2 separate regions of the Homo sapiens genome follow, and region 2 is reported to be linked to region 1. Evidence: microRNA targets listed by miRTarBase, many of them from high-throughput screens and not tested one by one. Region 1 holds a microRNA gene; the other region holds the end of a gene's coding sequence.
Evidence for each region. The annotated mature microRNA hsa-miR-4999-5p reads UGCUGUAUUGUCAGGUAGUGA and lies in region 1 at 2,701-2,721, opposite strand. An mRNA with a match to its seed (bases 2 to 7 or 8) in the 3' UTR can be bound and repressed. Matches are read on the target gene's strand: a 7mer-m8 pairs with bases 2 to 8, a 7mer-A1 pairs with bases 2 to 7 and ends in A, and an 8mer does both.

Region 1 (5,384 bases):
AATCAGCACTCTGTCAAAACGGACCAATCAGCACTCTGTAAAACGGACCAATCAGCACTCTGTAAAGTGGACCAATCAGCTCTCTGTAAAATGGACCAATCAGCAGGATGTAGGTGGGGCCAAATAAGGGAATAAAAGCAGGACACCGCAGCCAGCAGCGGCAACGTGCTTGGGTCCCCTTCCATGCTGTGGAAACTTTGTTCTTTCACTCTTCCCAGTAAATCCTGCTGCTGCTCACTCTTTGGGTGCGCACTGCCTTTATGAGCTGTAACACTCACCGCAAAGGTCTGCAGTTTCACTCCTGAAGTCAGCGAGACCAAAAGCCCACCAGAAGCAAGAAACTCTAGACATGTCTGAATATCAGAAGGAACAAACTCTGGACACACCATCTTTCAGAACCGTAACACTCACCGGAGGGTCTGTGGCTTCATTCTTGGAGTCAGCAAGACCAAGAACCCACCAATCTGGACACAGGATGTGTTATACAAAACTTATAGGAGGCTATTACTTTGGACTGACTTCCTACACCAGGCCCAACAAACTAAACCAAAATGGAGTCACTCATGCTAAAGTTTTACGTGATCAAAAAGAAACTAAGTTGTTTATCTGACCTTCTACAAAATCAGGAGAGAGAGAGATGGGATAGCCAAGTCTCCCACCAGGTCAGTTTTAGCCATCATGATAAGGATGTCCTCTCTGCTTTAACCTTTACAAGAAAAGTAACTTTGGGCTGAGTGCGGTGGTGGCTCATGCCTGTAATCCCAGCACTTTGGGAGGCCAAGGCAGGAGGATTGCTTGAGTTCAGGAGTTCAAATCCAGCCTGGCCAACAAGGCAAGACCCTGTCTCTGGAAAAAAAAAATTAGCTGGGCATGGTGGCACACACCTGTGATCCTAGCTCCTCAGGAGGCTGAGGTGGGAAGATTGCTTGATCCCAGGAAGTTGAGGTTGCAGTGAGCTATGATCGCACCACTGCACTCCAGCCTGGGTGACAGAGCAAGACTCAGACTCCAAAAGGAAACTTTAAAATGACCAATCCAAGTTTTCTTTTCTTTTTTTCTTTTTTTTTGAGTCGGAGTTTTGCTCTGCTCTCCCAGGCTGGAGTGCAATGGTGTGATCTTCGCTCACTGCAACCTCCGCCTCCCTGGTTCAAGTGATTCTCCTGCCTCAACCTCCTGAGTAGCTGGGATTACAGGCACCTGCCACCGCGCCCGGCTAATATTTTTGTATTGTTAGTAGAGATAGGGTTTCATCATCATTATCATGTTGGTCAAGCTGGTCTCGAACTCCTGACCTCGGGTGATCTGCCTGCCTCGGCCTCCAAAGTGCTGGGATTACAGGCATGAGCCACTGCACCTGACCTCCACGTTTTATTTTCTGTTTGTGCTTTACTTGGCCCTTTTTCTGCCTGTAAAACCAACCTACCTGCTCAGCTCATGGGAAAATTAGTTTCATTTTGTGAAATGAAGTGTTGCCCGATTGTAGAATTGCAAATAAAATCAATTAAGATCTTTAAACTAAATGTGTTGTAATTTTGTTTTTTTGACAGATGCCCAATGAACACCCTGGGAATGAGATCCAAGAGGCGATAATGGCATCTGCTCTAATAACTAGTACATTGACTCTAGGCTTAGATTATTCACCACTGAATAAATAAACGTATTTATTCAGCAGTGGGGAACTTACAGCAATGATGGGGACAGATACAGTCCCTGATGTCATCAGGCTGATATGCTGCTGACAGAGGACAAAAAACAAACAGATCAATGGGTCAGGAAAGCAAGGCTTTTTTTTTTTTGAGACAGGGTCTTGCTCTGTTACCCAAGCTGGAGTGCAGTGGGGTGATCATGGCTCACTGCAGCCTCGATTTCCCAGGCTCGAATGATCCTCCCGCCTTGGCCTCCCAAGTATCTGGGACCCTGGCATGATGCACCACATCTGGCTAATTTTTGTTGTTGTTCTTTTCTTTTTTTTCCTTTTCTCTTTTTTTTCCTTTTTTTCTTTTTTTTTTTTTTTTTTTGAGAGACTGGGTTTTGACATGTTGCCTAGGCTGGTCTCTAGCTCCTGGCCTCAAGTGATCCTCCCACCTCAGCCTCCTCAAAGGGCATGTTTTTAGGCATAAGCCACCGCAGCCAGCCAAAACAAACAAACAAAAAGTAACGTATACTTTGTGTTAATAATTTTGCATAGTATATTGAAAATTTGCCAAGAAAGTACATTTTAGATACTCTCACTACACACACAGTTAATTATGGAAGGCAATGGATAGGTTAATTGCTTAACTCTCATAATTGGCCATGTGTGGTGAAAATGCCTGTAATCCCAGCACTTTGGGAGGCCAAGGTGGGCGAATCACCTGAGGTCAGGAGTTCGAGATCAGCCTGACCAACATGGAGAAACCCCGTCTCTACTAAAAATACAAAAAAATTAGCCAAGCATGGTGGTGCATGCCTGTAATCCCAGCTATTCGGGAGGCTGAGGCATGAGAATCGCTTGAACCCGGGAGGCAGAGGCTGCAGTGAGCCGAGAGCACACCATTGCACTTCAGCCTGGGCAACGACAGCAAAACTCCGTCTCAAAAAAAAAAAAAAAAACTGTCATAATTATTATTTCACTGGGTACATGTGTATCAAAACACACGCTGTACACCCTAAATATATAAAACAAACACATACTGTATTGTCAGGTAGTGATAAATCCTATCACTACCTGACAATACAGCAGTATGTGTTTTATTTTCTATATTACCTATTTTTATATTTTACCTATGTGGCAAAATATAGGACAAAAGAGGGGTAGTGGTAGGAGGTCCTGTTGGAGAGCATTGGTATCCAGTAAGGATTTAAAAGTATTTATTTAACAAAGAATAGCAGAAAGTGGACGGTTGATTCACACTTGGTGCAATCTCGGCTCACTGCAACCTCCACCTCCCAGGTTCAAGCGATTCTCCTGCCTCAACCTCCTGAGTAGCTGGGTTTACAGGCACCAGCGACCACGCCCGACTAATTTTTGTATTTTTAGTAGAAACGGGGTTTCACCATGTTGGTCAGGCTGGTCTCGAACTCCTGACCTCGTGATCCGCCAGCCTCGGCCTCCCAAAGTCCTGGAATTACAGGCGTGAGCCACCGCGCCTGGCTGATCTGGTTATTTTCAAAAGATTCCATGAGACGGGTTTCTTCAGTTTACAGAGGAGGAAACTGAGGCACAGAAGGATAACCCAGTGAGTCCCAATATAGAGATGGAGACTGCAACCGAGAAAGGGGACCCAGCGCTGAGGTCCCCGGAAATGGTCATTTATGGGCTTGGGGGGCGACCAGGGCAGCGCGCGCTGACCTATGACGTCATCGGGACGTTAAGCATCGTAGCATTACCTGGACGTAGCCCCATTTCTCTTCCCGGACAGGTCCTCTGATAGTCGGGTAGGTTCTCAATCAAGCCTCTCATTAGTTATTTGGTCTGTCAATCCATTTCATTCCTGCAGTCTTCCGCCCCGCCCTCTTGAGCTCGCCCCTGATAGGCTGGCGCGTCCGTCACTTCAAAAAGGTCCGCATTCCTTCCGCCTTTCTCCAGGACACCGAGGGCGAGGAGGGTGGTACCAAGCGGCGCCCACCCTCAGAGCACTACTTCCATCTCTGATTGGCTTCGCTGGGTGCCCGTCGCTACTCCACTCGCCGCTGATAGGCCATTCAACCGCCGCTCTGCGCGGCGCCGGCTCCGCCCCCGTCGGGTGTTTGTGGTGGGGCTGCGGAGTCGCCGATCCCGCCGGAAGCGCCAGGACAATGGGGACCCGGGACGACGAGTACGACTACCTATTCAAAGGTGCGGCCGGTGGGGCACAGACGGGCGAAGTCGTGGCGGCGAGGCGGCGGGCAGACGGGCCAAGGCCGCGCTCCAGGCCGCTGGGCCCAGGCCGGAGCCCGGGGCTTGGGGCCCGGCGGGTCAGGCAGCCGGGAAGGCCGGAGCCGACCGGGCAGCATCAGCTTCGGGCTAGGATGCGCGGCTATACGGAGCCGGAGGCCCGGAGAGACCTGGGGGACCTAGGACGCGCCGGGGCGGGGCCAGAGCCTAGAGGGGGTGGGGCCCGGAGCGGTGGGAGAGGCTGTTAGGGCGGGGCCTCCGCAGGGGGTGGAGCTTTCCCAAGATTTGGCGGGCCGGGCTGGGCTGAAAGCGTGATTCGGGATGGGGGCGGGGTTTTTAGGGGCGGGGCTAAGGCGTGATGGGCGTGACCAATAGGTGGGTTGGGCCTGGGCAAACGGAGGCGGGGCTCTCACGAGGCTTGTCCTGATTGGGGCAGCGTGTTTGGGGGTGGGGCCCGGGAGAGGCGGGGCAGGCAATGGGGGCTGGGCCGAGATGAGGGCCTGGGGGTGAGGTGTGTGGTGGTGGGAGCCTTGGATTGGGGTGCAAAGCTGGGATTGAGTGGAAAGGCACCCGTGTGTGCAGCAAGAATTCCATCTCTTCACTCAGAACTCTCAACAGTGCTAAGCCAGTACTTGCACTTTTCTGAGCACTTTACCCGAATTAACTAAAATCCTCACTGCAGCCCTTTGAGGTTGATACTAACCAGCCTCTCTTTTTACACGTTGGGAAACTGAGGCCCAGAGTGACAAAGACACAGTTTATAAGTGTTGGAACCCGATTGAGCCCAGGCCACCTGTAGGCCTTACCACTTAGGAAGCGTGTCTTAGGGGGCTTGTGGCCAGCATCTGGGACTTTGGGTTGTTGGACCAACTTCTTCCAACACGTGCGCACTGATGGCCGGGGCCCCAGCCAGCCTGCTGGAGGGTCTTCCCCGCCCGAGGGACTGAGGGGGCTCTAGGAGCATCACATAAGGCCTAGGTAGATCAGGCAGCCATTGCCCATTTAGGGACAGCTGGAGGAAGCCGGAGTCCCTTGTTTCTCAGCTGAGCCTTCTGTGCCCAGCTACACTTTGGCCTAGTGGTCTGCCCTGGTTGCTGGGCTCCCTGGCTGACAATGGCAGCCCTTGAGGGCTAACCCCTGGATCCAAGGTGCCTTCACCCTGCGGCCTGCTCTATGAGGGCCTGCGTCGCACATCAGCTGTTGGTATCCTCACCTCGCTGAGCCGTTCCTCCGAGTGTGCTCTGTGGCTTGCACCAGGCCTAGCTGGGCCTTGTGTCTGGTCTCATCCAGCGTCTTCTGATTGTGGGGAATGAGGCAGAGGTCTCCCCACCTGGGCTGTCCGTGTGGCGAAAGCCTTCCGGGGGGAGGGAGAGGAAGTGCCTCTACAAGGGCCTAGAGTCGTCCTGTGGCACTGAGGGCTCTGGCAGCTGCACACAGGTTGATAATGTCACTGGTGGGTGAGGCTCTGTGGTCAGCAGGTGCCCGGCCCAAGGTCTCGCCCCTCGTGGCAGGAGGAAGCTTTGGAAGG
Region 2 (5,384 bases), not on the chromosome of region 1:
TTATAAAAATTACCTAGTTTTTGTTTTGGAATTAAGCACTAAGTGATGAAGAAGGGAAAAATGTAACTACCATCTGCCAGGCACATAGTTTTATGTAGTATTCACAGTACTTCTACTATCAGTATCCCCAGTTTTCAATAATAGATGAAGAAACAGTGAGACATGATTAACTTGCCAAAAGGTCAAGTAGCCAAGCTAGCATTTGAACTCCCACCTGTCTAATGCCAAAGTATGTGCTGCATAAACTATTTCAAACTGCCTCTGAATAAACTGTTCAGGTAAGAGTCCTCCAGAGACCTTTTAAAGCCTTAGCCACAATTCTGTAAGCCATGTGAAGTAACTTACCTTTAGGGAAGATCTTCCAGTTCCCTTTGGTCTGAAAGATGCAGATATTTAATTAAACATTATACTATGCTTCTATTTTTTTTAACACACTGGAAATAACTTTTAAAAGCTGCTACATTTTTATTGCTGAGAAATTATTGTACTTCTTTTTAAATATATGCTAAAGGGGAGCGTAAACTTAAATTCTCTTTAATTTGCTCAACCAGAGGATATAATTTAAAGAAATTGGGGTTTACCAAGATTTTCCATTTGTCCTCCAACACAGCCTTGGCTTGATAATAAGCATACAGTATTTGGACGAGTGACTAAAGGAATGGAAGTTGTACAGAGGATCTCCAACGTCAAAGTCAATCCCAAAACAGATAAGCCCTATGAGGATGTCAGCATCATAAATATTACTGTCAAGTAAAATAAGATTTGTTTTAATGTACTTGCAAATAAAAATACAATATTAAACAGATTATTTTACATTAGGAAGCTTAGGACTTGCTGAATATACAGATCATGTTTCAAAGATACAGTATTTTTGTATTTTTTATTAAAGGCTATTTTTTAAAAATTACCTTTGACTTTTCTCGCAATATTTCTAATCCTGGGAGGTGATAAATTGAAATGGACTAAACTCAGGCAAATAGCACTCATTATAGGTAATTTCTAATCAGCCTCAAATTAAATATTAAATAATTACAGTACTCTCCTCCACCCCCTTTCCCATGGTTTTCTTTCTACTGTCAACCATGATCCAAAAATAGGTGAGTACAATACAGTGAGATATTTTCAGACAGCAAGACCACATTCACTAACTTTTATTACAGTATACTGCTATAGTTGTTCTATTTTATTGTTGTTAATCTCTTACTGTGCCTAATTTATAAATTAAACTTTATCATAGATATATATATATGAAAACACAATATATATGGGGTTTAGTATCATCTGAAGTTTCAGGCATCCACTGGAGGTCTTAGAAGGTATCCCGTGCGATGACAACTCTATTAAATAATGACAGTGGTACACAACTGTGCTTTAATTTTGAATACCTGCCAGATATTCCGCCCTTATGTTTAGAAGAGTGCAGATCCCTCCTATAAGAAAAAAATACTAGGATATGATATTATATGTCATTTCCTTTGTTTTACAAGGTTTCAATGCCAAATATTTTAGTCTTTTGATAACTGTTTAGTAAGTAGTGGTGAGTAAAGCCTCAATAAACAGGAAGTTACTTTGGTCAAAGTGTTATATTCCTTAATAATTATGAAATATTCTTTCAAATGAAAGATTCAGAATAAGTGAATACCTGAGTCCTTAGTTTATTATATGCAGGTTGATTTTCAGATTATTTTTCTAACATAGGTAAACAATTTTTTCTGTCCTCAAGTTATAGTATATCTTTAGAAAATATACCATTAAGAAGTATACATAAAAATTTTGGTATCTAACAATGGAGAGATTAGTAGAAATTGGAGCAGTAAAACAATATGAGCACAAATTCTTATATTGATCTTCTTCACTTACACTTATAACTAACTTCATAACTATTAAGACTCACTGCTTCGTTTCCAGAAAGAAAGACTCTTTCTTTCAGAAACTTACAGGAAGAACATTCTCAACAGACCTGTGTAGGGAATTTATATTCTTAAGTTTTAAATCGGCTTAAACTTTTCCTTCTATTGATCAGCAGGATTCTTTATTTATTTCGTGCTACAAAGTTGTGAGATAGATAGGAGATTATGCCAGATTGTGCTCCTGTAATGTATGCTCCTTTTTAAAAGTAGAACTTAAAGTTAGACATGAAAATGACTTTTCAATGTGACATTTACTGTTTCTAATTTTAGTTGTTTAGTCTTACCTACCTAGCTTTATTCATTCCTAAAAATTTAATCTAAATTTTTGGTAATATTGCCACCAAGTGGTGATGATGCCTCATTCCCCAACAAATACAATTATTTTGCTTTGAGTGAAAACCATATTTGACTAATGAATTTTTCGATTAATATCAAAAACTTAATCGGCAGACCTAAAAACATACATTGCCCATGTCTTTTTAAAAGCATGTTTTAAGTTATCAGGATATAATTTCATCCTTATTCATTAGTCCTTTTCATCCTTTATTCTTTTAGGGAAGAATACAGCTGTCTTCTTCTTTGTTAGCACTTTGCCAATTGAGAAGTATCCCAGTGTTACATAAAAAGCCTTTCTCTTAGCAGTATTAGTTCATGAGCTACCACTAAGTTTTGCAAGCCATTTTCTAAAATGGTCATTTAAAATACTATGTTTTCTTATGAAACAAGTTTACATTTAAAATTTAAAAGGCAGTAACAAAGTTTCACTTCGTTCAATGTAAAACTTTAGCTCCGCCTTCAAAACACTATGGTTATATTACTTATTTAAATGTGGCCTGCACATTACTTCTCGGCCTTTTGGCTAAGATCAGGTGTAGTTAAGATCAAGTTTAGTATCTGTTCTCATCAGTAAATGTGGCCTATGTTGCAAATTCAAAACGTTATTTCTAAAATTTTGCTGTATCAAATAAACTACATCTCAAATTTGACAGGCATGCCAACCCATACCCATTTTGTTTTATTTTCTCTCCTAACCACAGCACAAATAATGACTTCTTAAATTGGTTACAACTAGCAATAATATTAGGTAGATGGTTCAAGAAAGAGACTTTCAAGAATAATGATGGGACTTCTTAAAAATGATCTTAACATTTTATTGCTGTCTATACTTATCATATATGTAGTGCAAATAATGGCTTCTGATGGTTATAAAGCATTCCTGAATTATAGACTACGGCTATACACTTGACATACCTGCTTTATATAACATACAGTAATATTTAGACCTAATACAGAAATTCAGCTACTAGGAAAATTCTAATATACTGTATATAAAAAAGCTCTCTTCTTAGTTTCCCAGGGAAGACTAGCACAGTCTTAACTAATGATTAGTGAAATAATACAACCACAAATAGTAATAGGAGCTTGAGAAAAATATTTCTTTAAAAATGAATCACACACAAACACCTACCATTATACATACATTATAATCAGGCACAATTTTTCAACTGTGTTCAGTTATATGCTAAGAATGTGCATTACAAAGTTTAGCAAAATTAGTGAAAAGGGAAGCAAGTTCACCTTAGTGTTACACTTTTTCTTCAATTAACTAGTAAACAGTTCAAGTTCTCACAAGCAATACAACACCTTTTTTATTTTTCACAGTTATTGAAATCAGTCAAATATTAAATAATTTAATTCGGAAGTATTATTTATGCACACAAACTACACCTGTAACAGCATGACCTTTTACCTGAAAAATAAAGGATGAAATATTACATTTATTTATTTACATATTGCCCATAATACTGATAGGCTTTTTTTTTAATGCTTTGTTTTCTAAAACTTGTATTGTTTTTAAACAAAAATAGATTTGAAAAGAATGAACCACAACAGTGCTACCAAAAAGTCACATCTTGTTACCAGACATCACTGTCCTTACAACAATTCAACTAATAAGATTTAAGATTTAACTTCATCCTAATGTATCAGAACATTAAAAAAAAAAAAGTCTCAATGTACCTATTTAAATAAATCGTGCTTCCATAATAATATTCTTTAAAAATGAAAAACAGTAAAGAGCACACATTTTTATTTACTCACAACACTGAATAATTAATGTAAACTTTTTGAATTTTTTTTTTCTTTAGACATTTTTCCTCTAGAGTAACTTTTCAAGGCCTTCTCATGAACAGCCTTAAGTTTTATTGTCAAAATAAATGCACTTATTTTGGGAAACAGTTTGAAGTAAGTAATAAGCATTTGCCACTGTACTTACAACTTCTCTTGAAGTTCGCTTTCTATTTAGGTCACTAGCTTTTAAATAAAGCCAACCCTGGTTCTGCGTTACTTACTACATTTTACCTATAGTCATTCCCACAAAGGATGCAATATTATATTAGAAAGAAATATTACTTTAAATTTGTTGAAAAATAGAAGGACCAATTTAGAGCTCTGACCTAGGTTCAGTCCTGGAAATGGGTCTTTCATAAATTCAGATCCAATTACTTCCACAGTTTTATTACTGTTCAGTTTATTACTAACCTGACAAGCCTAATTGGGTAACATTTCACTCCCTCATTGTGTTTTATACAAAATGCTGTAGGAGAAAGTTAATAAAACACTATATAAAGTATTAATTTTCTGTACCTTATAGTTCTTAGCATTAAAGGTGTTCTGTTAACTCTGAACATAAACATAAAGTAATCCTATTATCCAAATATGTAGTTTGGATTCTATTTCATTAAGCAACTGTCATTTCTACTACTAAATGCTGCCAACATTCAGTGAAAAGGCAGGTTAAAAGAAGCAGCTATACTTCACTTGCTTCACACAGAGGTCTCATTAGGCACTCAATTGGCTATTCTTTTTTCACTGAAAGAATAAACCTTCACTTACCCTTTCTCTGTGACTACCTCTTTCCCAGTATATTGGTCACATATTATCTGAAAAACTTAAATAACAAATATACTTTTTAAAAGAATGTATATTCAATAAGTTTCTATTTAATTCAATCTAATCTGCTCAATTAGAAATTTAATTCTGCCACAAAATTTTTTTAAAGCAAAGTACTGAATTCCCAATCCAAGATTCCTTTATATATATATATATATATATGCATCCTAAATTACCATCTTTTGAGATGTATAATTTCTTAAAACATACTATGTGCAAAGTTACTTTTAACCACAAAACTTCAAACAACTGCTGCCTTTAAAATCAAGCAACATCCAATACTCCAGCAGCTACAAGTTGCCGTGAGAGCCAGTCCAACCCTTCATACAGTCCCATACCACTTCGAGCATCACAGCCCTGAATATACCAGCTACGGCCACAGCATAATTTATGGAGACTGAGTAGTTCAGTGATTTCTTCTACTGACAGTGCTCCAGCAACATCCTGAAAGATATATACACATATTTTTTATCAGTCCATCCAAATTATAATTTTTCTAATTATCACCATTTATAGAGAAAT

Region 2: the mRNA of PPWD1 is a reported target of hsa-miR-4999-5p. The part of its 3' UTR that is shown has no 7-base or 8-base seed match.

The regions. Positions count from the first base shown.
Region 1 is chr19:8,386,640-8,392,023 of GRCh38, forward strand. MIR4999 (microRNA 4999) reads right to left here and starts at 2,741; the gene lies at 2,651-2,741. It overlaps RAB11B (RAB11B, member RAS oncogene family), which reads left to right and starts at 3,721. Exons shown (of 5, transcript NM_004218.4): 1 at 3,721-3,817. The coding sequence starts at 3,778. It overlaps RAB11B-AS1 (RAB11B antisense RNA 1), which reads right to left and starts at 4,052. Exons shown (of 3, transcript NR_038237.1): 1 at 3,370-4,052. LOC124904632 (a long non-coding RNA gene) reads left to right here. Exons shown (of 2, transcript XR_007067128.1): 2 at 1-1,520. RefSeq lists silencers at 3,353-3,634, 3,854-4,113 and an enhancer at 3,384-3,583.
Region 2 is chr5:65,586,643-65,592,026 of GRCh38, forward strand. PPWD1 (peptidylprolyl isomerase domain and WD repeat containing 1) reads left to right here. Exons shown (of 11, transcript NM_015342.4): 11 at 611-907. The coding sequence ends at 754. It overlaps TRIM23 (tripartite motif containing 23), which reads right to left. Exons shown (of 11, transcript NM_001656.4): 11 at 3,048-5,306. The coding sequence ends at 5,127. Among named protein-coding and RNA genes, the nearest start is that of PPWD1, 26 kb to the left of the region's middle.